Linked DNA regions of Homo sapiens: regions 2, 3, 4 and 5 are each linked to region 1. Evidence: fine-mapped expression QTL. A gene starts in region 1. Each other region holds a variant in brackets. All regions are shown on one strand. Distances are from middle to middle. Region 1 holds the start of PKP4 (plakophilin 4). Region 2 holds the start of LOC105373715 (a long non-coding RNA gene). Region 3 overlaps UPP2 (uridine phosphorylase 2). Region 4 overlaps UPP2 (uridine phosphorylase 2). Region 5 overlaps UPP2 (uridine phosphorylase 2).

The links. PIP is the estimated chance that this variant, and not a neighbour inherited with it, causes the effect.
Region 2: its variant is fine-mapped to the expression of PKP4 in monocytes (Quach 2016, PIP 0.95).
Region 3: its variant is fine-mapped to the expression of PKP4 in whole blood (TOPMed, PIP above 0.99).
Region 4: its variant is fine-mapped to the expression of PKP4 in whole blood (INTERVAL, PIP above 0.99).
Region 5: its variant is fine-mapped to the expression of PKP4 in whole blood (INTERVAL, PIP above 0.99).

The regions. Positions count from the first base shown.
Region 1 is chr2:158,453,515-158,459,986 of GRCh38, reverse strand. It overlaps PKP4 (plakophilin 4), which reads right to left and starts at 3,035. Exons shown (of 22, transcript NM_003628.6): 1 at 2,769-3,035. CCDC148 (coiled-coil domain containing 148) reads left to right here and starts at 3,234. Exons shown (of 14, transcript NM_138803.4): 1 at 3,234-3,572. The coding sequence starts at 3,548. LOC124907900 reads left to right here and starts at 1,853. Exons shown (of 1, transcript XM_047446754.1): 1 at 1,853-2,856. The coding sequence starts at 2,533. The coding sequence ends at 2,856. RefSeq lists an enhancer at 1,676-1,755 and silencers at 2,036-2,255, 2,286-2,345, 2,366-2,415, 2,666-2,715, 2,936-3,305 and 1 more.
Region 2 is chr2:158,574,258-158,580,729 of GRCh38, reverse strand. PKP4 (plakophilin 4) reads right to left here. Exons shown (of 22, transcript NM_003628.6): 3 at 3,347-3,459. LOC105373715 (a long non-coding RNA gene) reads right to left here and starts at 3,339. Exons shown (of 2, transcript XR_001739137.2): 1 at 2,467-3,339. The variant A/G (reference allele first, on the strand shown) is at 2,938.
Region 3 is chr2:158,110,564-158,117,035 of GRCh38, reverse strand. UPP2 (uridine phosphorylase 2) reads right to left here. Exons shown (of 7, transcript NM_173355.4): 3 at 1,777-1,935. Among named protein-coding and RNA genes, the nearest start is that of UPP2, 12 kb to the right of the region's middle. RefSeq lists an enhancer at 2,468-3,667. The variant G/A (reference allele first, on the strand shown) is at 3,123.
Region 4 is chr2:158,131,444-158,137,915 of GRCh38, reverse strand. UPP2 (uridine phosphorylase 2) reads right to left here. Exons shown (of 7, transcript NM_173355.4): 7 at 1,762-3,168. The coding sequence ends at 3,026. Among named protein-coding and RNA genes, the nearest start is that of CCDC148-AS1, 32 kb to the left of the region's middle. The variant G/C (reference allele first, on the strand shown) is at 3,664.
Region 5 is chr2:158,118,618-158,125,089 of GRCh38, reverse strand. UPP2 (uridine phosphorylase 2) reads right to left here. Exons shown (of 7, transcript NM_173355.4): 5 at 3,472-3,681; 6 at 1,195-1,341. Among named protein-coding and RNA genes, the nearest start is that of UPP2, 20 kb to the right of the region's middle. The variant G/C (reference allele first, on the strand shown) is at 3,424.

The sequences.
Region 1 (6,472 bases):
AATGCACTTTGGTCAAAATACAATTTCGGTTATTTTCAATTGTGTAGGATCACTAGTTGAAAAACTTCCACTCTTTGAATATCTGTAACAAATAGAAAGCATTTCTAACTGAAAGGTTACCTTTACCTGAAGCAGGCAAAACTATCTGCACAGCCAATCGTGTGTGTGTGTGTCGTGTGTGTGTGTGTGTGTGTGTGATCCATACATCTGAACAGGGTTTTCAATTTCTAATGCGGCAGGGAAACTAAATTTGCTTTTACTTCCCAATCTTGACATCAAGTCAAAAAAGCACGGGTTAAGCATGGGTTAAACACTGCTGTAATATGATACTGTTACATAATAAAAGTTTCCTGTTGGCATTTACAAACACCTCCCAATATCCTCCACAGTGTTACTGGACACAAATTAAACCTCTAAATTAGAAGATTCACTGATTATGCACATAGCTGAAAAACAACGTAGCAACCAAAACATAAACGTTTCTGAGTGCAAAATATTTTTTTCTATTTTTTTTCCTTTCTGTTGAGTCCTTAACTAAAGGCTCCTATTTAATAGTTTTCAATGTCCATGATCTACACAAAGTAGGTGTTGGAAGAAAGCTGATTGGTCAGACAACTGACTTATTATTTTACTGAATCTGACATAAAATAACCAGGTGCAAAGAGGTTTATCATAAATGCAACCTGCAAAGCAAATTGTGTCAAATAAAAACACACATATGATGCTTTTCAACACCCAGAAACACTTATTTCAGACATTAGTTGTTCTCGTTTTCATGTTGCCATTTTCCATAACTGTTTCACAGGCACCAAAACGAAGATACTCCTACAGCAATATACTGCATTCAAGAAGAGAAGCATTCTTCTAGTTTCTCTTTAAAAATAAAAAGAATCTAAGCTCAATTCTAGCGAACCATTTTCTGTCAAAATTTTGCTCTCCCGTATTAAGGAAAACAAAATTTGACCAAAAATGCATACTAGCCATCATTGATTTTACACGTAAATAATTACCGTTCTTTAAAACTTGTAGGGCAGCATTTATTTTTTTTTTTCAGTCAAACTCAGTAACAAAGAGAAAAAACTGAGACCTCCACTAATAAATTACATCTTGAAATATACATGATTGTGGTGTCCCCGTGTTACTTTCAATGGTAACTGACACGTCCCGAATTTAACTGTACCAGACAGTTCTATCTGTCCCATCGCTGACCGAACAGTGCTTCTCTGTTTCTATTCATTATGTATTATACGAGGTCTAAACACAGCCCAGTATGACGAGGGAAAAAAATTACACTTCTTAGGATACCAAAGTGATGCATTCAAGATCTCTCTCGCAGTACATGCCCGTGAGCACTAACAGGCATTTTTTGATAGAGCTAAAATATGTTGGCTGCAAGCTCATTACTCTAACAACCTTCAGGCCCCCTGTTTCTGCTGGTTTTCAGAAAACCCTAGTGAAAACCAGGCACTATCCAAACCTTGCACACCAAACTTGCCAACAGCCCTGTGCAATGATCAATAACCTTGGCTACACAGTCATCGGCCCCAAATTCACGGTCCTGAAGACCAATGCAGCAAAAACCCAGACGAAAGGCTAGCTGGAGCCCCAAAGAATTACCGCGCTTCCCCTCTGCCGCATGGAGGGAAGCTATGGGAGGAGAGGAGTGGAATGAGGCTCACCAGCTCCGAAGATGCTCCGGTGACCTCTGGCTGCGCGGCGAGAGCTGGGGAGGGAAGGCGCTAGGGCAGCCGCGGCGGGCTGTGTGGACTCTGCCCCTGGTGCATTCCTCGCATTCCTGCACAATCTGTCGCCAGCCCAGGAGCCGGCAGCGCGCGTCCCCCGCTGTACACACACACCTGACTACCGCTGCGCCCCGAGCGGCCACGGCCGCCGCGGCACCTCCACTGCCCGCGCTCGCGGTGTGTCGCACTCAGCCAACACGCAGCCAAATCCCGGCCCCGCCGCTCGCTCTCCGGGTAGCGGTCCAGGGGAGAGGGCCGGCAGCCTCGGCAGCGGGCGGGGATACCAGATCCGCCAGGGAGGTGCCGCAGCTCCGCTTCAACTCCTGGCAGGGAGAGGAGGAAGCGGCGGCGCAGGAGGGCAGCGGCGAGGCTCGGCGCTGGGGAGCCGGGAGGGGTGGAGCGTGAGGATCCGCGGCCGGTAGAGAGGGGCGCACTAGGCAGAGGGGTGGGCAGGACCGGCAAGGAGTACAGGACTTCGGGGACAAACGCAAGACCGCGCGGGCAGCAGGGGCGTGGGAAGACGGGGAGGGGACCAAGGTGCAGGATCTGGGGCTAGAAGGACAGACAGCCGGCCCCGAGTGCTGAGGAGGGCGGGCGCCCAGTGGTGTCGAGGGCGACTTGGGGCGCGCGGCGGCAGGCAGCGGGGAAGCCGCCGCGAGGGCGTCCAGCAGGGCTCAGCGCGGCGCTCAAGTTCGGGGCTGGGAGCTCTGAATCCGAACAGCCCAGCGTGGGCAGAGGTCGTGCGCTGCGCGTACGGGAGACCGGGGAGAGGAATCGCCGGGAAAAGCAAATGGAGGGTGAAACTTGTGCGCCTGCCGGGGGGAGGGGAGCAGCAGGCGAGTGCGGGCAGGAACACGAGGCGGGGCAGGAAAGCCGCGGCGGCCGCGAGGCGCTGGGGACGCGGCAGCGGGAGGGAGGCCCCCGGCCCCCGGCGCGCAGGTCCTGGCCCTGGCGCGTGTTCGGGGCGAGGGCCGAGGGTCTCGTGGGCAGGAGTCTCCGCGCCCTCCCGCGAGCCCACACACTTACTTTCCAGCTTAGGCAGCGGCCGTCGTCGCTCCAGGGATCAGGGACATCGGCGCCGAGGGGTCGCCGCTGCGGCACCCGAAAAAATTAAAAAAGTGCCGCGGCGGCGCGGCTGCCCGCCCCTCCCTCCCCCACCGGCCCCCGCCCCCGGAGCGGCTCTCCCACCACCCCCGGCGGCGGCGGTGGCCAACTTGCCCCTCTACCCCTTGCCCATGGTGCCGCCTCCGCGGCCGGCGTCGACGCGGACTCAGCCCCGGAGCCCCCTCTACTGCCCAGAGGCCGCCGCCGCCGCCCGCCCCGCTGCCAGCCCTCCCGCCCGGCCAGCCCCGGGCTCCCGGGAACGTCAGCACGCCGCCGTCCCCGGGCCAGCTCCCGCCACCCCATTGGCGGGAAGGAGAGGGCTGGCCCTCCCCATTGGCCCGGCCCTCATATTGAACAGGCCAATGGGAGCTGCGGTTTCAGGTCGCCATAGAGACCGATGCTGTTCAGCGCGAGAGGGCCTGGAGAGGGTGGGTGTGAGAGAGAAGGTGTCTCAGGTCTCGGGCGCGGGAGGGGGTGGCGGAGAGGACAGGGAGATTCCCCAGCGCTGGCTCTGAAATCTGGGGCAGGCTTTCCTTGCCTTACTGCCAATCCCAACTGTGCCTGGTAGGGTTTGTCCCTGGCGTCAAAGGTAGGAACAGCTGAGCCCTTAGATGTACCCCTGACGGCGAGAGCCCAGGAGTGGGCGTTTCACTTTTCCTGCGTTTGGGGAGTCCCTGAGGCTATGCCCTTTGACCTTTGACATGTGTGCAGCTTCTGCTTCTCCAGGTGAGTTTGCACCCCATCCCTTCCATCGCTGCTTCCTCCTGACGTCACTGAGCCACCTAAATCCTACTTATGTTTGTTCTCTGCAGCCACTCCCCCTTCCCTGGGGTGGATCTTTCCTCAACGTTTTGGGTCCTCAAACTCATAACTCTTCTGAAAGACTCAAAGAGGATTTCCTTTGAGGATATTTTGGTAAGGGAACGAGGTGGCGGATTGTATGATAGATGCCAAAGCGTCAACACATGAGCTAGCCTGTTCCCTGATTCTCAAAGCAAACCTCTAATCTCCCTGTGGGCAGATATTTATTAAACACATCTGTGTGTACATCCCGCACTATGAGCTTGACAGGTGCATGTTCTTTCACTTGAGAGGTTACAGGCTTGTTAAAGATAGAGGAAACAGAAACAATCCTTCACACCTTGTGATGATTTCACAAAAGAGTAAGGGAAATGGATTACAGTTGATGGATTTTGTTTTCTATTTTCCAGTATCTCTTTAAATTTGATATGGAAATAACCTGAGGCATGAAATCAGTACACGCAAAAATCTTGAGCTTTAATAATGTCTTCTACTTTCATTTAAAATCATTTTGTGGTGGTTTATCAATACTAATTGTTTTTTGTCAATAAATTTTATGTTTAGATATCACCTTCTTAAAGTGAGATTTCATGAACATATTAGGCTTTAAAAGATGATATTGCTCTAGCCTATAGCCACTGATATTCTTACATTCTTTTGGCGATTTTACTTTTTTTAGACTAATCTCTTTAGTAAGGAGACTATGTTACTACCCCTCAAATTGGAGGGACCATATTGTGTGAAAAAGCTGATAGGATTTTGGAAATTACAAATATTTTGTTGGGAGAAACAGGTTAATGTGTGTGCAAGCTGCATATGTCTAAGTATTGTTCTGAATTTTAAGTTGGGTGATATGCTTTGCTACTGGTTTTTATCTTACTATAATTGAAGATTACAAAGATGTAACCTAAGAAATGTTAATATGGTGCCTTGATTGGAAAAAAAAAAACCTCTCCACATTTGTAGTAAAATGTGAACTCAGTTGACAGTCCTACACAGGGTAGGACTGTGGAACAAAACAGGTGAACGTGTGTATGTTCCCCCTAAATATTTTCAGAATTGAGAAGGGATCAGCAGGGGCCAGGAAGTGCTGTGCCATGGCTGGCCATCATGGAAATAGGCTGTTTTTTACTTCTTCCGGCTTTTTAATGTGTGTTTTTGTTTATAGAACAGAAAAAGTAAACCACAAATTGTTATATGAGACACATGTTTAATGAAAAGATACCAATGATTTTGCTTCTTTTAAATTTCAATAACATCAAATGAATGAAAGTTGTGTCTAATGGAAAGAAAAAATGGGTCTTTTCTCTTGCCTTAGGCTAGCATAGAAAGAAGAAAATAAAAGATTATTACTCCAATAATCTTTTTGTGTGGGTGTTTTTCTCAGATGACTATTTTGATATTGTAGATTTCGTGTTTGTCATAATTAAAATGTTACTGAAATCCACCATGAATAATGTCCCCTGAAATAAGTTGCCACTCAACATTAATTTTTTTGTTTATTTTTGTATTTAGTTGAAAGGTTTCTTTTGAACTTGCTCCTGCGCTACTAAGCATTGCTAGACAAGGTTAAAGAATCACTTCATTCCACTAAAAGTTCATGCTATTCAGACTTGGCTGTGTCTTCACTGATTCTCAGTTCCTTTCCTCATCAGGAGGATGATTATCTGGAACACTTATCCAGGAACATTATCCAGGCCACTTCCAAACCTGTCCAATGTCTGCTCTCCTGAAGCCCCCACTTTACGTGGTTTTCCTGCACTTCTGCAAATGATCTTGCCTCGTACTCTACTGAAGGATCCACCATGAGGTTCCTCAACTTAACTTTCTTAAACCTCAGTCCTAGTTTTCACACATCTTCACCTCCTTCAGTCATGGCTGAGAAGGGTGACCACATTTCTCTTCAAGGCTCATACTCCACTTATGCTCCTAAACATGAGCCATCTTCTCTCTACCAGGATTTTGCTCTATTGATTATAATTTCTCTCTTACATGATGTGTTACACCCTCTCCTCCAAAGATTTTTCCTAAGCCTTCCAAATATCTGGCTTTTGGTAAAACCACCTTCCTTCTACCCTACCACCATCTCTATCTATTGGCCTTTCTTTTCACCAAGAAACTGTCTGAAGGGAATTTCTTGAGGTTTCTACTTTGTTGCCAATGTTTTGGCCCTTGAATACCACTGAAATGATTTTGAAGATTGTGCTCTTTGTCCTCAAAATCCTAGCTTATTTTGCCAATTAAGTTCTCTCCTACAAAAATGTCCTTTGCCTCCAAGTTGGAATGGCCCAATTCCAGATTTCCAGTGAAGGAATGAAACCACTGTTACCTAGCCTGAGGATCCACAGAAATGCAAATGACTGGCTTGAGAAGAGGATGATTTAAACTGCTAGCCTGGCCACCTTGGGAAAAGTGCTGGAAAGTAGGGGTGGGGAGAGGGCCTGTGCTCAGGCTGACACTGGGGCCCAGGGCAAGGTTAGAATATTAGGAGGTCTGGTGACTCCACCCTCAAGAACGAAAGTAAACAGCAGAAATCCAAACAACTTTTCAATTACCAGCTCAGAAAGAAGTCTACCTGAAACTTTTAAGATTACGAAAACTTTGTAACTTTCCAATGTTTATTTTTTTCATATTATCCCCTAAAGATTAGTGGTAAATTCCCTAAGAAGCATAGCAGAGGCAGCAAGGAATAGGAGGAAGCAGGAGCACTGAGTCTCTTGTCATACCTGGGTGTCTATGGAGGAGTGGGGGAGGTGAAGATAAAATCTTCAAAAAGTACGCCAATACTGATAATTTTGGGGTTTTCTTTTTAAAGAGGAATGTTA
Region 2 (6,472 bases), 120 kb before region 1:
GAGATCACTGAATGAAGAAACCCACCTTACTCATAACCCTTAAAATTTCATAATAGATTCCTATCTGGCTGCCTGGCCTCTTTATTCTGTTTTACACACTGCACTCTCAAAAAAGGAAAACTTCTAATCACCATCACCACCACCAATAACAACTTTCAGTTGGTCTCCTTTAAAGATCTAATAAAGTTCTTCACAATTAAATGCCAGCTTCACCTTTCCAATTTCATAAGCCAGTAGGTCCTTTTAGGACATATCCTAGACACTGAGCCTCTTACTGCTCGGGACAACTGTTTGTGGGGCCATATATGCATTTGTGCACATTTTCCTCCTTTCCCTGGTCAACCCCACTCCCATTTCTGCATGACCCATTCATTCACCCGACATTCACTGGTGGTGCCACAGTCACTTGCCAGGCACAAATGCCAGGCACTGAGAACCAGACAGGAACCACAAAAAAAGTCACTGACAGAAACTACTACCCACAATATGTACTTTACTTAGAGATTTTAAAAAAACATATGGAACCAGCCAATGAACGATATAGCCTTAAAATTATTTAACATTTTAAAATTCACAAGTCCAGAACATAATCTAATAGCCATGCATATATCAACCACTCCCTCATTTAACAGTTGTTAACATTTTGTTATATTTGCTCCAGATGGCTCTTGAATAAAATGCTACAGATTCTGCAAAAGCCTAATTCCTAGTATCGTCCTCCTTTCTTCCTTTCTAGAGGTTCCACTATCTTAAATTGGTGTCATTCCAAAATATTTTATAATTTTACTCCACATGCACACACTGACAAACAATACCAAGTACTATTTAATTATTATGCAGTATTGCTATATATATAGCAATATATATATAGCTATATATATATATTTTAAATTGCTCATAGATTATATCCTCCTACAGCTATTCTTCTGCAACTTACAGCTTTTCAAGTCTGTTTTGCAAACATGTCCATGTTGATACATGTAGATCTAGTTATTTCATTTTAACTGCTCTAGAGTTTCATTTTAACTGCTTTAGAGTGTACCTATTAACAGTTTATTTTCCATTTCCATTCTAAGGAATAAGTATGTTCTTTGTAATTTTTTACTTTTGCAAATGGTGCTGCAATGAGCATGCTTTGTATCTGTTTTACTGTGCACACCTGTCAGACTTCCTCCAATGGTATCCAGTTCTTGGACTGTGAAACCCTACTCTTTTGCTCACTGATTCTCTCACTCATGGTCAAGTTTTTTTATGATATGTAATTCAATGCTTTTTTTTTTTTTTTACAAAATCAGAACTAATTTGGAAATACATGACGAACAAAGCACAGTGTGAAACTGTCCTTCCTACCCTCTTCAATACATCTTTTCTTATTTCTGTGCTACATTCAGGTGCTGTAATCTCTCGTCTGGATTCCTTAGCTCTAGTGAAGGTATTTGTGTGTGTGAATGGTTGTTCAAATTGAAGTTTCTGTGAGAGGATGGGCACTGACAAGTCCTATTCTGTCATCTTGCTGATGTCATTCATAAATTTGTGTTTTATACTATCTCACTGTGAGCTCATCTTTAGTGGTGCCATTTTCTCACTGGGGACTCCTGAGCAATGTGGATAGTTACATTTGGGCTCCAAACCCACATATGATAGAAGCCTGGGGTTTGCTAATCATGGGGTCCTTTAAAGGACATGGCTTAGTGCAGTGATGTTAAGTTCAAACATACCATCTTGAGCACACACAAAACTTCATTCTTTAGCTCCTCTATGGGTATAAAATCCACCTCTAGTGCTTACTTTGAGGTTTGACAACTGTTCTCACATCTCCTACAGAGGTAGCTCAAGCTTCTGGCTCTGGTTTTCAGTGCTCTTTCTAGTTTCAATATCTGGGGATTTTCCCTCCTCTTGTGCCATTTCCTCTAGGTATTGGTCTTTATTATTGATATACCAAGTATTACTAGGAGTTTATCAAGAGAATTTCTATTTTAATTTAGTTAGTAATATTGCCAGAATAAGAAGTACTAACAGAATTCTGTTAAATGTTGAATTACTTTTCTATTAAAATATAATTCTGGTTAGAAAAACAAAACCAGTTGGTTCATACCTTTTAGAAATATATAATACCATATTATTGAGTTTGTGAGTTGTTCTTTTTGGTGCTAAAGATACGGATAATTTCTAAAAAATATTATAGAGAATTAAAGCTAATTTTTGTTTTCACAGTTTTAACTTAACGAATTATTTCATTGGGTATTGCAAAGTCTGAGTTAGAAATTTCTAATTTATTATTTTATACCTTGCTTATAATTCTCTTTCTATAAAAACCTTCCTGGATATTTATAAAATAATTACATAATCTTATATTTGTTTTGTAAAAGTTTTGACGACCTTTATTTATATACTTTATGCCTTACCAAACATATCAATATACACAACTGTTAAGAGAGATGAAAAATTCATATTACTACAACTTACCAGCCCAATAGTTTAATGTTCATACCAACAATCAGAAACAACAGACAGAATTCTATTCACTAAGAAGTTTTTTTGCCCATGAGTAACACAAGATACTGAAAAGTAGAATAATTATGAGGTTAGAAATAACTGAGAGAAAAGTTATTGCAGGCATGTCTACCTAAGTGTAAGCAGATCAAACTTAAAACTGCAAGCAATGAAAGCATTTTACAGTAGGCTTTACAGAAATATGTAATTATTAAGAAAGAAATCTATAGATAGGATAAGCAGTGATTTAACTATTCGGAACATGTAATTTTTACAGGAATTATGCTTTTAAATAGCATAAGAGGTACTTAAATAAAAAATAACAATCATGATTATGTTTTTACAGTAATGCACTCATTTAGTATTTACTGTATGTGAGTACAGTAAATTATTCCATATAGTAATTAGTTTGTGTGGTAGATTCATAGAGTTCTAGAAAAACCC[A/G]AAGTAAATTGAAGACATTTTTAAAGTTAATGCAATCTTATTTAGAAATATTTCTTAGTTTTAAAAAAATCAATACCAGGTGTTCAAAGCACCAGCCAATTAACTTTACCAAATAATTAGCAATTAATCACGACAACACCCATTAACTGTGTGTACATATGAGGAATCTGAAGGCAGCACAGTAGCTTTTGCTACAGAAGCTTGCCAATGCTATAGAAAACATTTCAAGCACAGGACTGAGGGATTGCAAGAGGCTTCTCAAAATTAGAATAAATGGACATTTTTGGTTTCAAATTCTGGAAGGCAAGTTAACAGTAACAACACTAACAGAATCTTTTGCTGCATAGAGAACAACCTAGTAAGGCATGTAACTTGAGTGTGCATAAAGATGGAGCCATTGGCCCTGTACCTGGTGCTGGCGATGCTTGGTGATTCTGCTCCAAGCCTACATCTTTCTAGCTGACTGGCAACAATCTGCCTTTCCACTTCCAGTTCTCGGGTGAGTCGCTGAAACTGAAGCTCCTGTGATTCAAGAAAATAAAAGGCATATAAGGCGCCAAGGTATGCTGCTCAGGCAGATATATGAATTAATGTATGTCACAGGAAACATAGGAACGTACCCATAACATAAAGCTATGGTGTGGCTTTGTGAAATGCAATTTTTGGATGAAATAAATGACCTATTGATTCCTAGCTTTTTCAAATCTAAAGGCAATAGAATATCAGCCTTTATTTGGCATAAAAACCATGTAGATCTTTATTTGCCTTTTCTGATTTTGGTTCTGAGGTCTTCAAACAGTACTTCTGCTACAGTGCCTTACTAAAGTTAAGGCTTCCAGAGACCTTACTTAATGTATCTACATCAGAGACACAGCAAACAATGGCTAGTTTTTATATTTCTTATACTATATGTCAGCATAGTTTAAAAAAATATAAATCCCCGTGATCAGAATCACTTTACCATGTTTGATATAGTCTTTTAATTAAGAAAAAAAATGATTCCAATGCCACAGAAAAAGTCTTGCCGTATTTATCTATAATATAACCAACAAAAATTTGCTATGTCCAAAAGCAATCATGTGCCACTGTGCAAAGGAGAGAAGGAACACAAGAAGTGAAAAAGACTAAGCCATAACATAGAATTTAAAATATATTCAAAAGCTGGAAGATAGTCTACAGAAATTATATTCTTGAATCTATGCTGCAAAGTGAAGGCAAACAAGTTCTATGAAAGGAGAGAATGTTTTAACTTTATTTGTATTTCTCTCATTGTTAGCTTGATGGGATTTTAGTAAGTAGAAAACATGTCATGTTATAAAATATCTAAAGATCAAGTACATTCCAAAGGTTTTAAGCTACAAATAGCATCTCAAGCTCCCCTGTGCCATACTGTCTCCTCACAAGTCTATTCAAAGCAAATGCTGAACTGTAAGTAGTTTAATTTGATGACTGCTAGTTCAAAATACCAGACATATGAGTATTAAATCTAGAAACTATTCAGAAATAAAACAACCTAAAATATTATTTATGATTATATGTATACATTCGTTTGCCATTAAAAATTTTAATTGAAAAGTATATGAACTCCCTGTGAAATCAGGCAAACATGTAATTGCTTGACAGTACTGGCTCTGCAAATTCCACAAGCTATTCTTGGAATAATTTTTAAGAAACAGTCCCTAAACTCCTTACCATCTTCTGATACTGAGAATCCTTTCCTAATGATCCCAACTGGTGTGGCAGTATTGGACAGGGCCTAGATGAATAATAGCTGGCTCAATAATGCTGTACAATATGATCATAATCGGTAAGTGGGACAATGCCTGCCTCTGCCTAACAATTCCTAGGCTCTTAATAAATGTTCAGTAACAAAAGACTAGATAGACATAAATTGTTCAGCATTCAGTACCAGGCTAAGATAACCAATTTGAAAATACTATTATGCTTACCTCACACTTACTCTTTCTTTGCTCTTAAACAGCATCATTTTGTTTTTTTTGTTATAGACTTCTATTTGTTCACTTCATTTACTCACTTGTCATTATATGCATCTTTTCCCACAAGACTGCCTGGTTGTATCAAGCTGGGCCAGGAAAAGACTACTCAGGAATCCCAAAATATTCCCCAAGCCATCACAATACCTTCGTCCTCTGAGTTCAGTGGCTACTAGGGATTGAGGGCTGGAGTACTGTCCTCATTTTGGGATGGGCAAAAGTTACCATATCAGGTACAGTATGGTATGAAGATACATTGCAAATAAGAACATAGAAAAAAAATTCCATTCATAGAAACAAATTCCATTGTACAGGAATGAATTTTTATCATGTTTGTGGCTGCCTGTGACCTTGTAAACAACCTTTCAAGGAAATGGCTGGGAAAGTTCCTGCTTGAAGGCAGAAGTTGGAATTTCTCATAATTCCTTCCCTCAAAAGCAGAACGGGTGACTTTGGCTCTGCCAAGAAAGTACACTCATGCCAGGTTGTGATGCAGGTGCTGACACTGAGACTCTGACTCCAGCAAAGAGGACACTTGTTTTCTCTCTCTATTGCCTTCTTGCTGTGCTTCCTGCATTAGGTCTCAAGGTCAAGATCCTGACATGGAAACAACCTCCATACACAATTCTGTGTGTTTGGTGGCTATAACAATAGTTTCTTTATCTGATCAACATTGTGGCACAAATTTGGACACCGTTCCTGGAATCTTAGTCTCAAGTCTTGTTCTCCAGTACCTGTAACAAATGTGGGAATTCACTAATAATCCCTTAATGAATTCCTTTTCTGCTTAATTAGCCATGTTAGTTTCTGTATCTTACAACTAGAAACTTTGATTGACGTACCCACAGAAACAATTTACAGTTCTTGAGTTGCTAGGAAAGCCTATACATGCATGATGTAGCTACACTTTTTATTTAAAAGTAGGGCAATTCCTTTAACATTCTTATGGACTGAATTAAGTCCACATTATATCCCTACTGGATGCAGAGCCCATAATACTGAACATCACTGGCTACTTTTATCAAAACCATTCAACCTATTACGTGCCCACAACTTCTCACAAGTAGTACTTCATTAAAGTGCCAAAAGCAGAATATCAAGAAGCTATAAAGCACTGAATTTGTAAAAGTGACTTAACACCTGTAAATGTTTACAAAGAAAAAATATGCTTTCTTGCAAAACTATTACTATTCCTCCTAAGAATACAAGTTGAACACACGCACATGTGAATGGCACCAAGATGTATGAGTGGGATATCAATATTTGATAATTCAGTCTCTACTGGCCTCTTTGACTGACTGATGAGGACAGTATTATGCTGTCATATGAAAACACATCTAATAATTTCCAAAATAACGCTCATTAAGATGATGATGCAGAGACATCATCTATGAAGTTAAAAATTCTTATATTTTATCCTCTAAACAAAAAATGTGAAGAATGGTTCTTAAATCAGTATCCCAAATTGGGAATCTTAATTATAGGGGGAGCTTATATTTGTTCTTTTGTGAGAAGAAAAAAGTTAATGTTAAAAGCACTTG
Region 3 (6,472 bases), 340 kb after region 1:
TCTTCAATGTGTCCTACTTTTGGACACAAAGACTTTGGAAAACCATTGGCCGTGACCATGATGTTTTCACCTGAGCTTCCTCCGTCTATCAAGAATGTTGAGCTATGGAAACTTCGAACCTCTGCGTTACCCCTTTCTGGTTCCCATTGCATATGCCCTGACTTTCAAATGTTTAGTAAGCATCCTGGAGCCAGGCATCGAACTTGTATTGATTTGTATATCCAAGATTAACAAGTTTAGGACTTTGGAACTGGCTCTGTGACTAATGAATAAATGCTCTAAGTATTATTTTTTCTTACCTGCAAAATAAGAAGATGAACTATTATTTGATCTATTAGATTCCTTCTAGTTCAGACATTTAGTAAGTTAATGATTGCCACTTATTATGTTACGCATTGATAAAATGACAAATGGACTTGTGCTCTCTTTCACACACACGCACCCCATTCAACCACTACTGGAGAGGAAGAATTTTCAAAGAAGGAATCACATTTGTCAATCCCCTGCCTGCCTAGTAAGGCCCATTTCTAATTGGTAACCTTGGCATCACACATATTTCAGGTCTTTTTCCCAGACAGGACAGGATCAGTCTATTGCTGTTTTCATTTCTTACTGTGAAGTTTTACTGCTTATTTATGGTAGTGTCACATTTTTAAGAAACTTACTTTTTTGTCCTTCTCCATTTACTATACAAAAAACAGTTATAGTCTAAAGGTCCACTAAATGTTGGTAAGAAAAAATTTACCAAGATCAGTGGATATTCAGCTTCCTTCTAATGTAGATATTCTGTAATGGTTTATTGAATGCACAAGTGAATAACTGAATGGACTCTCCCATTTGAGCAGGTTTCAGGCGCTCTTGGCCCAGAGAGGAGAGCAATTTAGCTGCCTTATTGGTGTTGCATAATTTTCCCTTCTTTACCGCAGGTTTTCATCAATGATTGTCCACACTGTAGGGCAATCAATGGATGATGCCTATTCCCTATGGTAGGAGCCACTTACAGCTTAGTTCCTTAGAATTGCCACCCTGTGCAGGAGACTCTTCCCCTGTCCCCTGGCATGCCTGCCTGTGCCTCTTTTGAGGGTTGCAGTGCCCAGAAATGTGATGGCTTCAGAGTTATTGCTTCAGAATACAGCCCTGTGCAGAGAGACAAACATGGGAAGGCAAATGGGATGCCTATGCACATACGCCCTCATCAGTGTGTGCCCAGCTGAGTCCAAGGGGGAAATGGTCTGCATCTTCCCTAAAACTGCAAATCATTCCCCTTTCATTTTGTCTTAGGGCACTGTGTGCTTCCATAACTGTTCACATGTTCTAAATGCAGGAGAGTAATTTACAAGAGCTCAGTAGAAATGCATTAGCAGCTTTTCAGCGAGCTTATTATGGTGTTAAACAGCAGCACTTTAGCAGTCCTGAAAATTAGCCTCTGTGTACTAAAAGCTCAACATTCCCAAAGCTGGGTAAGGGATAGAAGAAGGAAAATTGCCGTGGCGGGGGTGAGGGGTGTTAACCAGTTACAAAGTAAAGAGAAAGGAGGGGTGCTTTGAGTATTTTCCCCCTAATTTGAATACCTAAGTGGTAACTAATAAACAAAAATGATGCTGCATGCTGTGTTCTGCCCTGGGGGCTTTTTCCAATAATGAACTCATACCTGGACACCTTGTTTGATTGTGTAAGAATGCGAAGCTGGAGGGAAAAAGAACTCCTACATGTAAAAGTTCCCACTTTTTTCTCTAGCCTGCAATGACTAGCTGAAATGCAACCATGGATACTTACACTGATGGCGAGCACAGGCCCGGTTTTGTACATACAGTATCTGTCTGTCCCAGCACAGATGTCTTTTATGTCTTCTTCAGCTTCCTCAAACCCGAGCTCCTTGTGCATAAACAGTGCAAATGCTTTCATTCTGTTGGGGCTCCCACCGACACAGACAAACTGTTAATAAAAATAAACAAGGGCCTGCCATAGTAACTGGGATAAGAACCACGGGTCAGTTTCAACTCTAATGTTTTTATTTTACTTTTTAGTTAATTTACTTAAGAACACGTGTAGATGTCATGGTTTATGTTCCATGAATTAGCTAATTTGCATCATCAACCTGTAAATAAAGCAACAGATGCAAAGTTTTTTGCACTAAATTTGTAAAGAAAATCACAAAATCAAAATAAATGTTGATATTATTCAAGGAGGTGTTTCCTGGTGTTTTTGTTTATAGTGAACACCAACCAGCATCTTAAATTGACATAGACAGCCTATTGTTGAGCATTACCATGACATATGCTTAGGATGTAAGTTCTGAGGCCACGGCACGTGAGTGATGTAAGAGCAAAAGGAGAACCACCAGTTTTAGGTATGTTTTCTGATTCCCCATCCCCCATCATAAATTTGTATTGTGAAATGGAGTATGTGAACTTAAAATTTTAAAGGAATCATGTCAAGACTTTTAAATTTCTTATTCAGAAGAAATTCTCATGGAACAAGCCTTATTATTGTAAATGTGGGATCTCCCTGTGGCATTTCATCAATTCCAGTGATTTATTTTTGTTTTTGTTTTATTCACATTTTACCTTCTCTGAAATTAGGATAGGTGTTGCAGTCAACGGTGTCTAATAGAAGATGGTAATACAATTGTCTGGCAGTTACTCATACAACAGTCTGTTTAGGGGTACCCTAGCCCCAGGTACCAGGAGTGGGAGAGGTGGACGCCAGGGAGAGGAGCAGAGAAGCACTACGGGTCAGCAACAAGAGGGTGAGCAGTAGCAGACTCTCACACCCAGGAGGAAGCACAGGCCACAGCAAGGTGGCAAGAGTCAAGTCCTCCCGGATTCTGAAGTAAGTGGTGAGGAAAATGCAGAGAGAGAGAAGACAACATAGTGGAGGGTCTGCCCTTTGAGGTTAGGTAAACCTGGCTTTGAACTCCAACCCCATCAGTGAGTAAGAAACTTGCTCAGTGTCACACAAATAATCGATGTGCCTCAGAACATCTCCAAAATAGGAAAAACACAGTACCTCTCAGAGAGTTTTGAAAGAAGAACGTGAGATTGCATATGGCAAAGGACATTGCACAAGTCCAGACACGTTCTCAGTGATGTGCAAATGGTAACCATTATTTTTTATATCAT[G/A]TAGCAATTTTCTATTCCTGCTTCTGAGCTTGTTACTTTTCCTGTATTGCAGAATTTAGTACACAGGAAGCTGGTTTGAGTCCTCTAGTGAGGAAAAGGCAGTTGGTGGTATCTGGCTGATGTAGGCAGCATTGGACAGAGGACTGGGAGGGCTGACAAGGTCCATCACAGGGATAAAGAATATCTGTCTAACGAAATACCTAACTGAGGTTATAGAATAGGCGGCCCCATTCACAAATGATTTACTCTAACTATTGGGTGGTCTGAGTACATGATGCATCTTGTTTCCATTTAGCAATAATTCCTGAGCTATTCTCTTTCTCAATTAGGGGTGTAATTAACCCTGTATCCACGCCCTCTGCTTCTCTTCTACCCTTAATATTGTCTTTTCTCTGCCTTCTTATGAGTTTCTCTGATGAAGCCTTAAGCTAGTAATGAACTGCAATAGAAGTCTGCCATAAAGACTGGTAGCAAAGAGGTTAAGACCATGGTTTCAGGTGAGTTTTAAACTAGTTATTGATAATTCTTAGAATTTTCTTCTTTGTTGGTATGGATAGTTAAGACTTGGCTCACGATCTAAGTCCAAGGAAATTTTTTAACACAGTACGGTAGTTTGAAAATAACCTCATTGTGTGGTGCCAGTGAATGTAAATTACAACTATTCAGATTGACCATAAAACCAAAACAGATGTTAGAATAGCTTGTGGTTTGAATTCTCCTTTGAACTGTAGATATTGCTATAATCGACAGGAATTTCTGAATATTTCTGGAGACATAAAGATCATATGCACAGACAGAAGCAGCTTGGTTCTTAAAGCCTTCCTTACTCCTAAACCAGACTCACTAAACACCACCTCTGGACACAATTTTCGGTCTGGCTGCTTTAATGAGAAGTAAAATATGGCTGAAGACCACCAACCAACATTGACCTTAAGTGACACTTACTGTGTTTATGTCTCAAACAAAATGATCAATTGTCCTGGTTTTATCAAAGAAGTTAGAAACACACTGGGAAGGAGTCAGAGGCATTACAAAAATATGTTAAGGATTTTGCCTAATGATTGCCAGAAAAAAACTCAGCTTTAGATATCCCTAGCATCTTAAAAGGCTTAACTATGCCATGTTGTATTAATCTGGTCTATTGCATTTTATGCATTTTCTGTGTTAACAAGGGAATATAAATACATTCAAAATGCATTGCATATTACTAAAATTTCTAGTGAGAGATTAGAGGATACCAGTTAGTGATTTTATAAAAGACATATTTAGATGTTGATTTTGAATAGATAACTTCCTTTTTTTTTTAGAGTTCAATTTATTTATTTTTATTTTATTGCTTGTGTTTTGGTATCTTACATAAGAAATCATTTCCTAATCCAAGGTCACAAAGATTTATGTCTATGTTTTCTTCTAACATTTTATAGAATTAAGCCTTACATTTAGGTCTTTCATCCATTTTGAGTTAATTTTTGAATATGGTGTGAGATAGGGATCTAACTTTATTCTTTAGCATGTGGATATCTAGTTGTCCCAGCACCATTTGAAGAGATGATTCTTTTCACAATAAATTGTCTTAGCATGCTTGTTGAAAATCAGTTGTACATAAAGGTGAGAGTTTATTTCTGGTCTCTTGGTTCTGTTCTAGTGATCTTTATGTCTATCCATATGTTAGTACCACACTGTCTTTATCATTATAACTTTGTAATAAGTTTTGAAGTTGGGAAGTGCGAGTCCTCCAACTTTTTTCTCCTTTGTAAAAACTATTTTGGCTATCCTGCATTCCAGGCATTTTGACGTGGATTTTATTAGAAGCTTGTCAAGTTCTGCAAAATAGGCAACTGGAATTTTAATGGGGACTGCATTGAATCTGTAGAATATTTTTGGTAGTATAGTTATCTTAACAATATTAAATCTTGCAATCCATAAGCATAGGATGTCTTCCCATTTACTTAGAGCTTTCAAAATTTCTTTCAATAATGCTTGTTGTTTTCAGAGTATAAGTTTGCACTTCTTTTGTTTATTTGATTCCTGTATATTCCTGTAAGGTCTATATGTCCCACTTCAAGTCGTACAACATTGATTAAAAGTAGATTTTTAAACATTAAATATGTTTACTGTAATCCTTAGAGCAACCACTAAAACAAATAAGCAGAGAAACAAAACTGAAACAAAACAAAGAGATATAGTCAAAATATAACAGATAAATAAAAATGGAATATTTAAAAAATGTTCAACTATCCCAAAAGAAAGCTGGAAAGAGGAATAAAGAAATGGAAAGCAGAGCTTAATACACAGAAATCAAATATAAAATGGTAAACCTAAATCCAAACATATCAATAATTACATTAAATGCAAAGTGTCTAAGCACCCATTTAAGACACAGAGATTTTCAGAATGAATAAACAAACATATGATCCAATTATATGCTGTCTATAATGATAATGATACAGGCAGATTAAAAGTAAAAGAATGGAAAAATATAGACCATGCAAGCTTTAATCTAATGCTGGAATGACTATATTAATATCAAAATAGGCTTCAGAGCAAAGAAAATTACCAGAGACAGAGGGATATTCCATAACCATAAGAGTCAGTTTACCAAGAAGACATAACATTCAAAGTGTATAAAAACTAAAAACAGAGCTTAAAAAATAAAGCAAAAACTGTCAGAAATAAAGTATTAATAAACTCACAAGCATAGTTTGAGACTTCACCTCTCTCAGTAATGCATAGAACTTATGGAAAGGGAATCGGCAAGACTTAAATGTTAGACCTAAAACCATAAAAACCCTAGAAGAAAACCTAGGCAATACCATTTAGGACATAGGCATGGGCAAGGACTTCATGTCTAAAACACTAAAAGCAATGGCAACAAAAGCCAAAATTGACAAATGCGATCTAATTAAACTAAAGAGCTTCTGCACAGCAAAAGAAACTACCATCAGAGTGAACAGGCAACCTCAGAATGGGAGAAAATTTTTGCAATCTACTTATCTGACAAAGGGCTAATATCCAGAATCTGCAAAGAACTCCAGCAAATTTACAAGAAAAAAACAACCCCATCAAGTGGGCGAAGGATATGAACAGACACTTCTCAAAAGAAGACATTTATGCAGCCAAAAAACACATGAAAAAATGCTCATCATCACTGGCCATCAGAGAAATGCAAATCAAAACCACAATGAGATACCATCTCACACCAGTTAGAATGGCAATCATTAAAAAGTCAGGAAACAACAGATGCTGGAGAGGATGTGGAGAAATAGGAACACTTTTACACTGTTGGTGGGACTGTAAACTAGTTCAACCATTGTGGAAGACAGTGTGGCGAGTCCTCAAGGATCTAGAAC
Region 4 (6,472 bases), 320 kb after region 1:
ACAAATTCCTGTCTTCCCAGTGCAAATCTAGTTCTAAAGGAAGGAGGGAAGAAGTGATGACTTGAGGGAAAATTGAAGTTGGAGACCTCCCCAAAGGAGGTGAATTTGGGGCTTGGTTTTGACAGAGGGGAAAGCTGTGTGTATGTGAGAAAACAAGAGGTTCTAGACACTGCCACAGATATACACTGATGGTACAGAGGACTTTCCTCCCCACAGAGTGAGATGTAGTGGGAGGAACAGCCAGGGAGAGCTGTGCTGACCAGGACTGAATAAGGAAAGTATGAGTCTTGCAAAGATTGTGAGATTATAGTGAGAGTTTACAAGGGAAATGCTATGAAAAGGATTCATTCTTCACTTGACAAGTATTTATTGAGTGCCTAGTATGTGTCTGGTACTGTTTTAGGTGCTTGAAGCGATAGAAGCAAATAAAATATGTGCAGTCTTTGTTCTCCAGAACCTTATAGTGTAGACAGTAGGCATTAATTAAATAATGACCCCAATCATGACATAGTTGCAAGCTGCATACTTTGAAGAAGTAGTCGAGGGGGCTCTGGAGGGGGACTACAGGTGAGCATGGAAGGAATCTGGTTTGAGGATTAGAAAGACTTTCTAAGGGAAGGGATCTCTGAGTTGAGATTTAAACCATGAGCATGAGTTAAGCGAGGGCCCTTCAGGGAGAGTAGACAGCAAAAGGCTCTGAAATGGGAAGGGACATTGGCACTAAGAGTTCCCACTATCCCATATAACACCATTGTATAAATCAGGAAAAGGCCCCTCTCAGTCACTGTGGCTCAGGGTGGACTGAGATTCACCCTGTCCAGGTCTCACAGCTAGCTGGACAGGGTGGATCTCAGTCCCACTTGTCCCCGCAGCTAAGCACCCCCATTGGATGGATCTGTTGGCAGTCCTTCCCAAGGGATTGTGCCTTTGTGAATTTGTGCCTTGGGTAAGACTGAAGGACCAAGGGTGATGTGCCTGGAGGGCAGACACAAGGGGAAGAAGTGGGTGAGGTGAGCTGGGCTACCAAGCTGGGCCCAGTCAGGAATGCCTAAGCTGCACAGAGGGCTTTGGTCTTCATTCTAAGACCAATGTGAAGGCTTTGAAGCAGGAAAATAACCCAATCAAACTTCAAGAATGGAGGCAGGGTGATCAGGAGTGAGGCTTCCTCAGTGACCTGGAGGAGAGATCATGGTGGCCTGGACTAGGATGGGTGCCAAAAAGATGGAAGGAAATGAACAGACTGGGGAAATATTTAGGAGGATCAATTAATAAGACTTAGTGATTGACTGGCTGTGGAAATTAAGGAGAAAGAATCATCACAGGGGTTTCCCAGGTTTCTGGCTTGTGCAAGTGATATGGTTTACTGAGATAGAAAATACCAGTGAGGAAGACACAGACATAAATGCATGCATGCATGCACCTGTGCGCACACACTCCTTGCAGGAGTTGAAGAGAAGATTAACTGTAATTATTTCATTCTTCTCCCTCTCATAGCCTCTCCTTCTCCGTGTAAAAAAAAAAAAAAAAAGATTGTCCAGGAGCAGGCAGATAAAAGTTCAAACTGAAGCCTCTCTGAGGTGGTTTTCACTACATGGTCTAAAAAAATATGAAACAAAGTAAAAATCCCATCAGAAAATGACGGCAATGCTATTCTAGCTTGCTTTTAGCTCTGATCTTTGAATTTGATGGTCAATTATTGAGATACCCTAAAAATGGCACTTAAAGTGTCTCTAGTGCCAAAAAGAAGTTCACAAACCAATGTACCTCTTGGGGGATTGTTTATTGGTGATGATAAATACCTCTTGTTTATTGTCATTGCTTGAAAGAGAAAGACATTCCCCACCCAGGAGCAGGCCAATTCAGACTCAACCGGCCTAGGACCTATTTCCTGCCCCAAGCCTCCATTCGGTCATGTGTGACAATGGCTCTGGGATCCAAATAATCTGTACTGTGTTGGAATTAAACTTTATTTGAGCCACAACCATATAAATAATATGTACACAACATTACATACTATACAAGTGTGCCAGTCATCCTCTACCCATCCCCCATCCAGTCATTCCGACTCCCAAGTATGTCAAATTGAGAAGAACCCAAGATGCGATCAGTTCACAGAGAGCATGTGCAGCCAGGAGGAGCACCATGCCTCCCAGAGAATCAAACGGGTAGGGCAATAGGCCGGTCTGGACAAGTCATACAAAAGGATTCCTTTAACATCTTGAACTCAAGTCTTAATTCAATTGCTATGAATTTCTCAGCCTATTTGGTTAATATTGAAATGGAATAAAAAATACAGCCTCCTCAAAACACTTTTTTTACAAGAAAAAATGGCTAGAAGGCAATTTAGTCACTTGTGATTCTGAAGAAAAAGGAAGGCCTTTCTTTGCATTACTGAGGGTTTTCAGTTGAGAGGAAAATGTAATCCAGAGTTGTTATATTCTGAGATAAAATCACAAACAGGCATATGTAAATCTCGAATCCTATTCTGTGGTGCACTGAAATAGTGCAGGGGTAAAAAAGCAGTATGGCCATATTTTCCTAATGGTAACTTTTCCATATAGACCTACATTTCACTGACACTTTTTTCTGTAAATATTTTGAATATGGATGATCAGTTTCTGTCACTTGTCCAATACCTAGAAGTGCCTGACAATGTTCTAACATGAATTTCTGGATTGGTTTCAGAAACAGAGTGACTGGTAACTATGTGCAAATGGCTGGTCTATTTTGATGTGAGCTTAATTAATGCTGCATATGAAACTCCAAATGTCATAATCCAGGAGTTTTAAAATTTTAATTATTAGACTGATTTAGTTAACTTATTCTAAAATGAAATTTGAATTTAATTTAGTGTGAGTATTCTTTTACAATAAATTCCTTTTTAAGAGAGAAGGATTTCATAAAGTCTTTCCATTTAGCATGTGGATGAGAACTATATAAAAATGCCACAAATAAAATATGACTTTCACATTACAACTTGAGCTACAAACTTGCAGGGGAGGGTTGGGCTGCCCAGTTAGGACGTCTAGTCACAAAGTCCAAGCCGCCGTCTGATGAAGTTGGAGATTAGGAGCTGAGGCCGTTGCTGGTACTCCACCAGGACATCATGAGGCAAGTTGATCTGATCACAGTCGAGTCTGTCGAGAAGTGTCACACAGACCACAGCAGCTAGAAGAGCAATTAGCACAACTGATGGAATGAATGGGTTCATCTTTTCTATAGAAGCATTAGCCAAACACACCAGCATCCCTAGCACATGTACTTTTGTGTATTTTTGTTGTTGTTGTTGTAATGTAGATGCAACCTACTGAACCTTCTGGTCTTCAATATTTTTGTGGAATCCCACCAAACACTTCATTTAAATAAGTTAACTAAAATTGTTGTGAACACTCCTCCTTCCTCTTTTCCTCCACAATTGACTAGATTAAGGCTCAGGAAAGCATCATGTTCAAGATAAAGGAGAAAGCTTTGCAATCTGAGATATGCCATCTCCTGCTTTCTATCCTATTTCCAGTTCTTAGAGGAGGGTCTTTTACGGGAGGATATAACTGGAGAACTAGCCGTAATTCCCAAGGTGACATTTTTCTCCTTGGTGCAATGGTTGAGTTTGCCTGCTGCATTGCAGCCCTTGCTGAAGAAAAAAGTAAATACAGAAGAGATATA[G/C]AACGCTGACCTCAGGAAATACCAATAAACGTGAGTACTGGCTCTCATGAAATTTGAGAGGAAAAAACATGATATGAAATGCTTAAATGTAAGAAGCAGCACCATGAAAGAGGAAATGTATTAGCATTTGATTTCTAAAGAATGAGAATGAAATCTTATAGGAAACTGGAGGAAAAAAAACAAAAGTCTTTTTTAAAAAATGAAACTCTTATTTTTGAAAAGTTGTCACAAGGGCAATGTCTTTGGTTTCATCAGCAAGAAAAATTGAGTTCCATATGAATTCTTTATTGTCAGTTTCATATCAAATCTTTGATTTCAAGGAATGTGGTTACCCACATTGAAATCAGTGTTAGCCACTTTGAATTGCTAACGGTGTAATAATCTCCATCTGAATCTGCATCATTTAAAAAAGGATTTCAGTACATATGTGATTGGATTGGATGTGTCTGTATTAACAAACTTGGAAGGCATGGAGAGAGTTGGGCATGAGGGTAGTGTTTATTTCTTTGACCTCTCTGCTACTCCAGACTTCTTTGTAAGATCTAGATTTGGGAAGAAGTAGTATACTGTAATTATAATAGTACATGCTATCTTTATTTTTAAATGACAAATAGTAATTATATATAATTATGAGGTACAATGTGATGTTTTGATATATGTATACATTGTGAAATGATTAAATTAGCCTAATTCACATATCTATCATCTCTTATACTTGCATTTTTATGGTGAAAACAATTAAAATCTACTCTCTTAAAGATTTTTCACTATACGTTATTACAAACTCTCATCACTATGCTATGCAATAGATCTCTCGAGCTTAATCCTCCTTGTAACTGAAATTTTGCACCCTTCGACCAGTTTCTCTCCGTTCCCCATCCTGCTCCCCTATACTCTGGTAACCACCATTCTACTCTCTACTTCCATGAGTTTGATTTTTCTAGATTCCACATATAAGTAAAATCATACAGTATTTGTCTATCTGTGCCTGGCTTATTTCACTTAACAAAATGGCCTCCAAATTCATCCATGTTGTTGCAAATGAGAGAATTTCCTTCTTTTTAAAGGCTAAGTAGTATTTCATTGTGTATATATACCACATTTTAAAAGTCTATTCATCTGTTGATGGACACTTGGTTGATTCCATATCTTGGCTGTTGTGAATAATGCTGCAACAAACTTGGGAGAGCAGATGTCTGTTTACAGCACACTGATACCAGTTCCTTCAGATATGTACCAGAGGTGGGATTGCTAGCTTATATGGGAATTCTTAGTTTTTTGAAGAACCACCATACTGTTTTTCATAATTGATGTACTAATTTACATTCCCATCAACAGTATTCAAGGGTTCTCTTTTCTCCACATCCTGCCAACACTTTTTATCTTTCGTCTTTTTTGATTATGGCCATTCTAGCAGGTGTGAAGCGACACCTCGCCATTGTTTTAATTTGCATTTCCCTGATGACTAGTGAGGTTGAGTGTTTTTTTTAATATATCTGTTGGCCTTTTGTATGTCTTCTTTTAGAACCTATTCAGATCCTTTGCCCATTTCTTAATTTGTTTTCTTGCTATTGAGTTGTTTGAGTTCCTTGTATGTTCTGTGTATTACCTCTTATCAGATGTATCAGTTTAGAAATGTTTTCTCCATGCGTTTCTCCACATTTCTCCAATCCATGTATCTTTTTTGTTTGACTTAGTTATTGCTACATGCCAAGCATTTATGATATCACTTAATCCTTTACAGCTATTCCTTGAGCTAGGATTATTTTTGTCCTCTTTCGACAGATGATTAAATGAGGGCTTAGAATGATCAACCAAATGGCCCAGTATTACACAGCTGGTCAGAGCCAATCAACTCCTAGCTTCCTAAACTGATGAGAGAAGAGTTCTCTACCTTCCATCCACTCCTCCCCTGAGCTAGCACATGGTGAACCATTAGGCAATCCTGCCCTATCGGTTATACTGACCCATCGGTCAGACTGACCCTCTTGTTCAGTGACGTGAAAAGCAATGAAAATATTCAACTTGAGCTGCGGCAAATATTTCATCACCTAGGACCCTATTTATTCAAAACTCAGTCAGTTGTAAAGCAACTTGGCTGTACAGGTAAACAAGCAAATGGAAGAGCTAGAAACTTCCCACAGCTTTTCAAGTTAATGATCAGCAAATCTGTGAAGCCTGACATGGGCTGGCAGTCGCACAGAAAAGTTGAAAGTCCTTCTCTAATCCTTCACTTTGGCAGAAGGATAAAAGGAAACCAGTGCTCTATACTTTTTACAGAGTGGGAACCGACTTTACTAAATGTCTTTTCTGGATTTCAAGGGGAATGCCAAAGATAGAAAAGAACAGGTTATAGCAATCTCAGTGGTGTTTTCTTGACCCTGGAGAATCCACTAGCGAGCAGCATATAATAATCTTGTCACTTAAAATTACTATTTCCATGAGCAATTAAAAGGGACTAATTACCCAAAACAATTTGCTGAAATTAAGCCTGACAGCTTTGCTAGCAAAATCCTCAGATTAGGCAGGGAGGGTGGCTGCTGGGGAGGAAGAGATACTTAGTGACCCAGCTGCCACCAAGGAGATTGTCAGTGAACTGACCTGAGGCTAGAATGTTCTGGGAACACACAGACCTGAACATGGAGCTTGGATGCACCCTGAGCTGAACTAGGACTGCCCAGTAATTGTCAACCCTTTGGGAACATTTATGGCTGCTTTGAAAATCTGATGAAAGTCCTAATTGGAACCTCTTTTCACACAAAAATACACATCTGCCAATACACACAAAATATTTGTGTATAACTTCAGG
Region 5 (6,472 bases), 330 kb after region 1:
CATGGGCCACTCCTCCTTGGTCTCTCCCATCTCAATTAACTTTTAACGTTTAAGCAAGGACCTCTTGTCATCTGTGCCTAGACTCATTGTTTGTTATCTTACCCATTGCATAGCTTTAAATGCCATCTATATGCTTTCAACTTAGAATTTTATGTCTCCAGTGCAAACGACCAACCTAAACTCCAGATTCATAAATTCACCTGCTTGCTTGGCCTCCATTTTGATGTCTACTACCCTAATGTCTTCACCCCAATTTCCTCTGTCCCAGTTATGGCAACCTCATGCTTCCAGTAGTTTAGACCATAAACATGGGAGTCATTTTTAACTCCTGCCTTTCTCACCAAATTTACATCAAGTTGTCAGCAAATGTTGTTGGGTTTGTCTTCAAAATGTTTCTACAATCTGACTACTTCTCACTACCTGCGCTGCTATCACTTTGTCCATCAACTCTCACTAGACTACTGCGTTCGCCTTCTCGTTCTTCTCCCTGCTTCTGCCCTTGACCCCATTCGGGTCTTCCCAGCTGAGCCGCCACTGTGATTCTGTTAACACACAGGTCAGATCCAGCCACCTCTCTATTCAGAGCTCTCCAGTGGCTTCTCATTTCACCCAGAGTGAAAGTCATTGTTCTCACAGTGTCCTACACAATCTGTACATCTTCCCTCTCTCCTCCCATTCTCCACCACTGCCTCTCCCCTCCTGATCTCTTCCCTGTTCCTCCAATTCTCCTTGAATGCTCCTGTCTGTGGCCTTGGATTTGCATTGAACAGAATGCTCTTCCCCCAGATATCCAAGTGGCACATTCTTCTCCCATCCTTCCCTGACCATGCTCTTTAAAATTATGATTGATGGACTATTTTAGGAATATTTTGTTTGTATCTTGTCTCAATAAATTCAATTGTAATAGAAACTACTAGCCACCACCAGGATGAAGGAAACTGAACTTGCTGTCAAGCCCTGAACATGTCACCAATTAGCTGTTGAACCCTGAGGTTTAGTTTCCTTATTTGCATAATAAGAATAATGTCCTGGCCACTCACAAGATATTATGAGATAATGTATATTATATACAATTATAAGTCATGCCTTCAGCCCAAGGTAATATATAGCTGGACCTCTTTTTCTTCTCCTAAGGTGTAAAAGTAGCTTCATGAAAGAGGAGAATTTGACCCTAAGCATTCACGAAAAGCTTACCTTTTAGACCACAGAGTCCACACATAGCTGCAAACACTGTAGATTCCATTTCAATATTCCTGACACCAGCTTTAAATGCTCTCTTCAAGTAGTCTAACTTTTTTTCTCTGGAAAAGGAGCACAGTGCTCCATCTAGTCGGCCTTGGCCTGAAAGGGAGGGGAGAACGTTTAGTGACTTGATGTCCCACCCCACTGACAGTGGCCTCATAGGAGGCTTGCTGTTGGCTGGAGCACGCTGCCGCTGTCTAACTCTACAGCGTGCTCCCCGTGTAGGATAAACTGAGCTGTGTGACTCTTCCTACCAGAGGACTGTGGAGCGATGCTGTCCCTAGCTGAGGAGTCTCATACGTAGGAAGGAGCCTTCATGGCCGAGGACCTCAGTTCTGGGGTCAGTAACTGTTGAGTGGCTGCAGCAGCCAGCACTGTGCCCAGGGAAATCAGGAAGCGGGGGGTTGCTGTGAGAGCTGCCCTTTGAGGAAAATCTCAGGTTGCTCCAATGACTGGGGAATGGCCCAGGGATGGGTGCTGGGAGAAAAAAAAAGAGGTTTCGATGATGCTAAGCTACTTGAGGATCAGGACAGTGTTTGGACATTGCGCCTCTCCATATGCCTTTGCGACATTGTCCACCTTCCCCCTTTCCGCACACTTCTCAGGCTGCACGCCACCCCTTGTGATCACATTTTCCTTTCCAGGCTGCTCCCAGTGTTCATTCATCACTGAATTTCAGCTGTATCTACCAGTGCGGACAGAAGCAAGGAAAGGAAACCTTGATGTCATTACTCCTTCCGTACCCTGTGCACACCCAGAAATAGACCTCCTAATGCCTCCTCACTCCTGAGAAGACCTGGATTCAAGCAAGTGGGCTAATAGCACTCTGTTGCCATCCATTATTTTCACAATCCCCTTTTTGGTGCTCTTTCCTCTCTTTTTCTCCCTTTCCTCTATCTCTTTCACGCTACTTTCACCCCTGGCAGTCTGCTTCCCCTTGTTCCTTCTCTTCTCATTAGAGCTGCGTGCCACCACCTCTATTTAAGCTGATTCAAACACAGACATCGCAGAAGCCAAGCAGGTAATGTCGATGCGAGTGTCTGGTCTGAGGGGAGCAGCTTCACCTCACCTTCAGCAAATGTAGCCCCAGATGTGGGTCAGGGCTTGTCAAGGCTGTCATGCATATACTGGTGTACATTTTTAAATGCTAGTTATTTCAAAAAGCCAGAAATGTGGGTGTTAATATAAAATCTCCAGATATTGTAAATGTTGGCAAAATAATTCACATTTTTAAAAATACTGTGCAGGCCAAAGGAAACATTGACTTTAACAAGCTTCCATTTGCAAATTCTGCTTTAACATATCAGTGAGTGACCCTCGAGATGGACTATGAGTCAGTGGCCTTGAACAGAGGGTCCCAACCCTATTGGACCCCAACAGCCCTTCTATTTTACAACAAATATGTGGTGAAACCACCTTTACTAACCGGAAGTAAAATGTATAGATAATATGACCTATCTCCAAACATAATTTTTTAAAATTCAATATATCTTAAGTTTGAGCTAAAGGGAAAATAAAAGTAATTTATAATGAAATAGTATGGATTTTGAAAAGAATAAAACTACTGCCAGATTTTCAGAATGCCCTTCAAGGCATGGTACCAATACTGTGTAGATTCTTTCTTCTGGGACGAGAAAGAATCGGGGGTCTGTCTTTGAAGGTTTCTTCCCCTTGGCCCTTCATCCCTAGTAGCAAGTGCTGCTACATAGCAGTCATCTTCAATTTGTCTCTAAACTTGGTTTGGGGACCCCTTACTCATGGCTGAGAGATAAAAACCCCGCTCTGAGATCATGCCATCCCGTGGGATTTGTACCCCCTCCCCAAGCATTTCTCCCCATTTTCTGGACCACTGTTTCCGGGGGACAGGATCATTTTTGAGGTACAGATGAATGGCAGAAACATAGAATCAGCATACTTCCCTTCTCTTAGAGCTGCTAATTTAAGTTAAAGGCATAAACAGAGATAAGATTCTGTGAACATCACTAATTGCATTTTAGTGTTCAATGTGTTCTTGGAGGATTAAATCCACCCTCAATATAAATTCATTCTGCTGCTCATTATGTCCTTGTGTTTCTATGCTTTAGTAAGTAAAAAAGGCTGTTTCATTTCCTTTTTAACCCACAAATATTAATTTTCTTAAGTAGAGTTGTTAATATAAATTATGGGTTTGAATAACAAAGA[G/C]TTGCTGGCATTTTTCTGTTTCCTTCACAGTTTATAAATTGTTCTCACCTTCATAAAAATCATAGGTACACATTGTATGTCCAACGAGGGTTGGGAAGTTGGGGATTTCTTTGCTACAGTTGAACAGTTCTTCAGACAGTTCTTTGTCCAGTTCAGTACTTCGGGTGACAATGTTGTCCAAAATGACCTGTTCAAACCGGGGCTTAAAGAAGGAGTCTACAGCTATATCCGTTATTACAACAGTCCCTGGTGCAATCCCTGCAATGTGGGAATAAATGATTACAGAAGAATATCGTTTAGAGTTTACTTTTGACACATAGTATGTAACTTATTCTAGTATTAATGCTAGCTGCTAATGAGTCTCCCTGTTTTCAACTTTAAAATTATTTTCTTTTCCAAATGCAATTAAATAACATTCAGAAGAGGCATTTACATTTGTTGTCTTTTCAAATGCACATTTACAATGTGATGGGGTTTAGATTTCAAGACAAACATGACTCTTGGACATGCAAATTAGTGCCAGACTTTGGGCTCAAATTTGAATAAATTAGGTCAGGAAAAAACTAAATAAGCCTGCCAGCAAGTAGCTTTCATAAAGTGATGTGACTTCTTAATATTTAATCTTCTCTGCGACTTCTTGATTACTGTAATTTCTTTGCATCTCTATCCTCTTTTTCTTCTGATTCTTTTCACATTTGTTCTCTCGCCGACTTCATGTAAATCAGGGCTCTTGGCTGACCTTCCATGGCTACAAAGTCTGAGTTGCTCAAGGGACTTGGGCTTACTTAAGAAACTATTTTCTGCCAACTGTTAGTCTCCCTGCCTGCCATGCCATCTCCTCCTCCCCCCACCTTTTCACCACACACCAAGTCACTCTTCAGGTGTCAGCTTAATTTACTTCCTGAAAAAGGTCTGAATCCACAGAAGGGAAGCAAACAAATGAAAAAATTAAAAGGCAACACAGATAGGTTACACTAAATTTCCCCAGGCCCATTTTTGACCCAGCTTTTGACCCAGTCTGGTTTCTATTTAAAGCCTGAATAAGAAGATATATCTTCATAAATGCCCTAGACTCTCTCTGTCCTAACACTTTTTATAATTACCCATTTGTTTATCTTTTTCTCTGATAGAACATAAACTCTATAAAGTCAAGAACTATGTCTGTTCACTGCTCTCTCCTGGTCTAGCTCTGTGCCTGCCACATTATAGGTACTCAATAAAAATTTGTCAAATGAGTGAATGTTTTCACAAAGATGCCATAGATTATAGCTCCGCAAGCCTATGGTTCATAAACCAAATCCTGTCTTTGTAAATAAAGTTTTATTAGTCACACAGCCACACCCATTTATTTACATATTGTCTATAGCTGCTTTCAAGCTCTAGAGGCAGAGTTGAGAAGTTGCAATAGAAATCACACAGTCAGCAAATCCTAAAATATGTACTGTCTTGTCCTTTACAGAAAAAGCTTGACAATCCTTTCTATAGAGTATAGACTTATCCTTCAGGGTGGCATAAATTTTGATATTGATCAAAGTAGACTTAATTACAAAATGCTTTAGAAGATCCAACTAGAGACCCAAGGTGGCCACTGATAATAGAGCCTTGTTGGGTGAAATATTTTTTTTTAATTTATTTTTATTTTTATTTTTTTTTTTTGAGATGAGGTCTTGCTCTGTCACCCAGGCTGTAATGTAGTGGGGTGATCTCAGCTCACTGCAGTCTCTGCCTCCAGGGTTCAAGCAATTCTCCTGCCTCAGCCTCCAGAATAGCTAGGACTACAGGCACATACACCCACACCTAACTAATTTTTTGTATTTTTAGTAGAGATGGGGTTTCACCACATTGGCCAGGCTGGTCTCAAACTCCTGGCCTCAAGTGATCCACTGCCTCGGCCTCCCAAAGTACTGGGATTATAAATGTGAGCCACCATGCCTGGCCAGATAGTTTTTAAACAATCCAAGTAAGTGGCTCCTTGAATTGTTCACAATGTCCTAAGAAAGTGATTGAGAGGGAAGTTGAAAATATATACATAAAAATGATGTTATTTATATGCCATCTTAATATTTAAATGTGTTAGTGTATTATGTCATGGTTAAGGTTTCTCAAAGGTCAACATACTATTTAACTGAGTAGTTTATGCTTGTTAAGGTGTGTTGGCTCATGTAGGAAGGGATCATGTGAGCGACAATACTGTGTACATCTTTCATCTCCAAACGCAATACTGCTTAAAAGAAAATAAGCAAATACATCTTTTTGGTAAGCTAAGAGTTCTTAATGAGGATAAAACTTCAAAATGAAGGTGTCCACACCAGTACAGTGGGTTAATTTGCCACCATCCATGGGCCTTCATTGTGTGCTATATGTATCGTGTTGCCATGAAATAAAATACCCTAATCAAGAGCTGGATGATCATTGGAGCACCTTGCCCATGCTGGTGTTTGTTAATATCAAGTGGTAACTGTAGCAGTCAGGACTTTACAATGCATGAATGTTGGCTATGAAGGCAGATCCTTGTAACCCACAACCCAAGAATTATGAGCAACTTTAATAGCTATGTTATCTGAAATTCATGCCCAAATGAGCAGTTCCCTACTACTGATTATTTGGGGTATTGTTGGATAAACTACAATCTAGAAGGATGCCTGATCTGACACTTATTGCTAGCACTCTACTTCTCTCTATGGATGAACATCCACAAAGGTCCTACTTTCTCCCAGATGTAAGGGCCTTGGCTGGACTTTATTCCTGGACCACGGCTGTGGAAAGCCATCATCTTTTCCAACATGTCTGATTTCTAGTGAAGCATGGCTCAGCCATGGTGGCTTTGTGATGTTGAACACACCACTTCTCCACCTACTTGTGTGAGGATTTCTGACATCCCTTTTTGCTCCATAAATGTCTAATTCTACCACCATTTCTCTTCCCAAATCTCAGCCCTTTTTATAATGCCCATTCAGTTCTATCGCCCTGTCAACCAAACTTCTCCATTTGCCATGTGCAGTCTGTATTTGCACTTTGGTGACATGGTAAAATCATACCCTGACAAGAT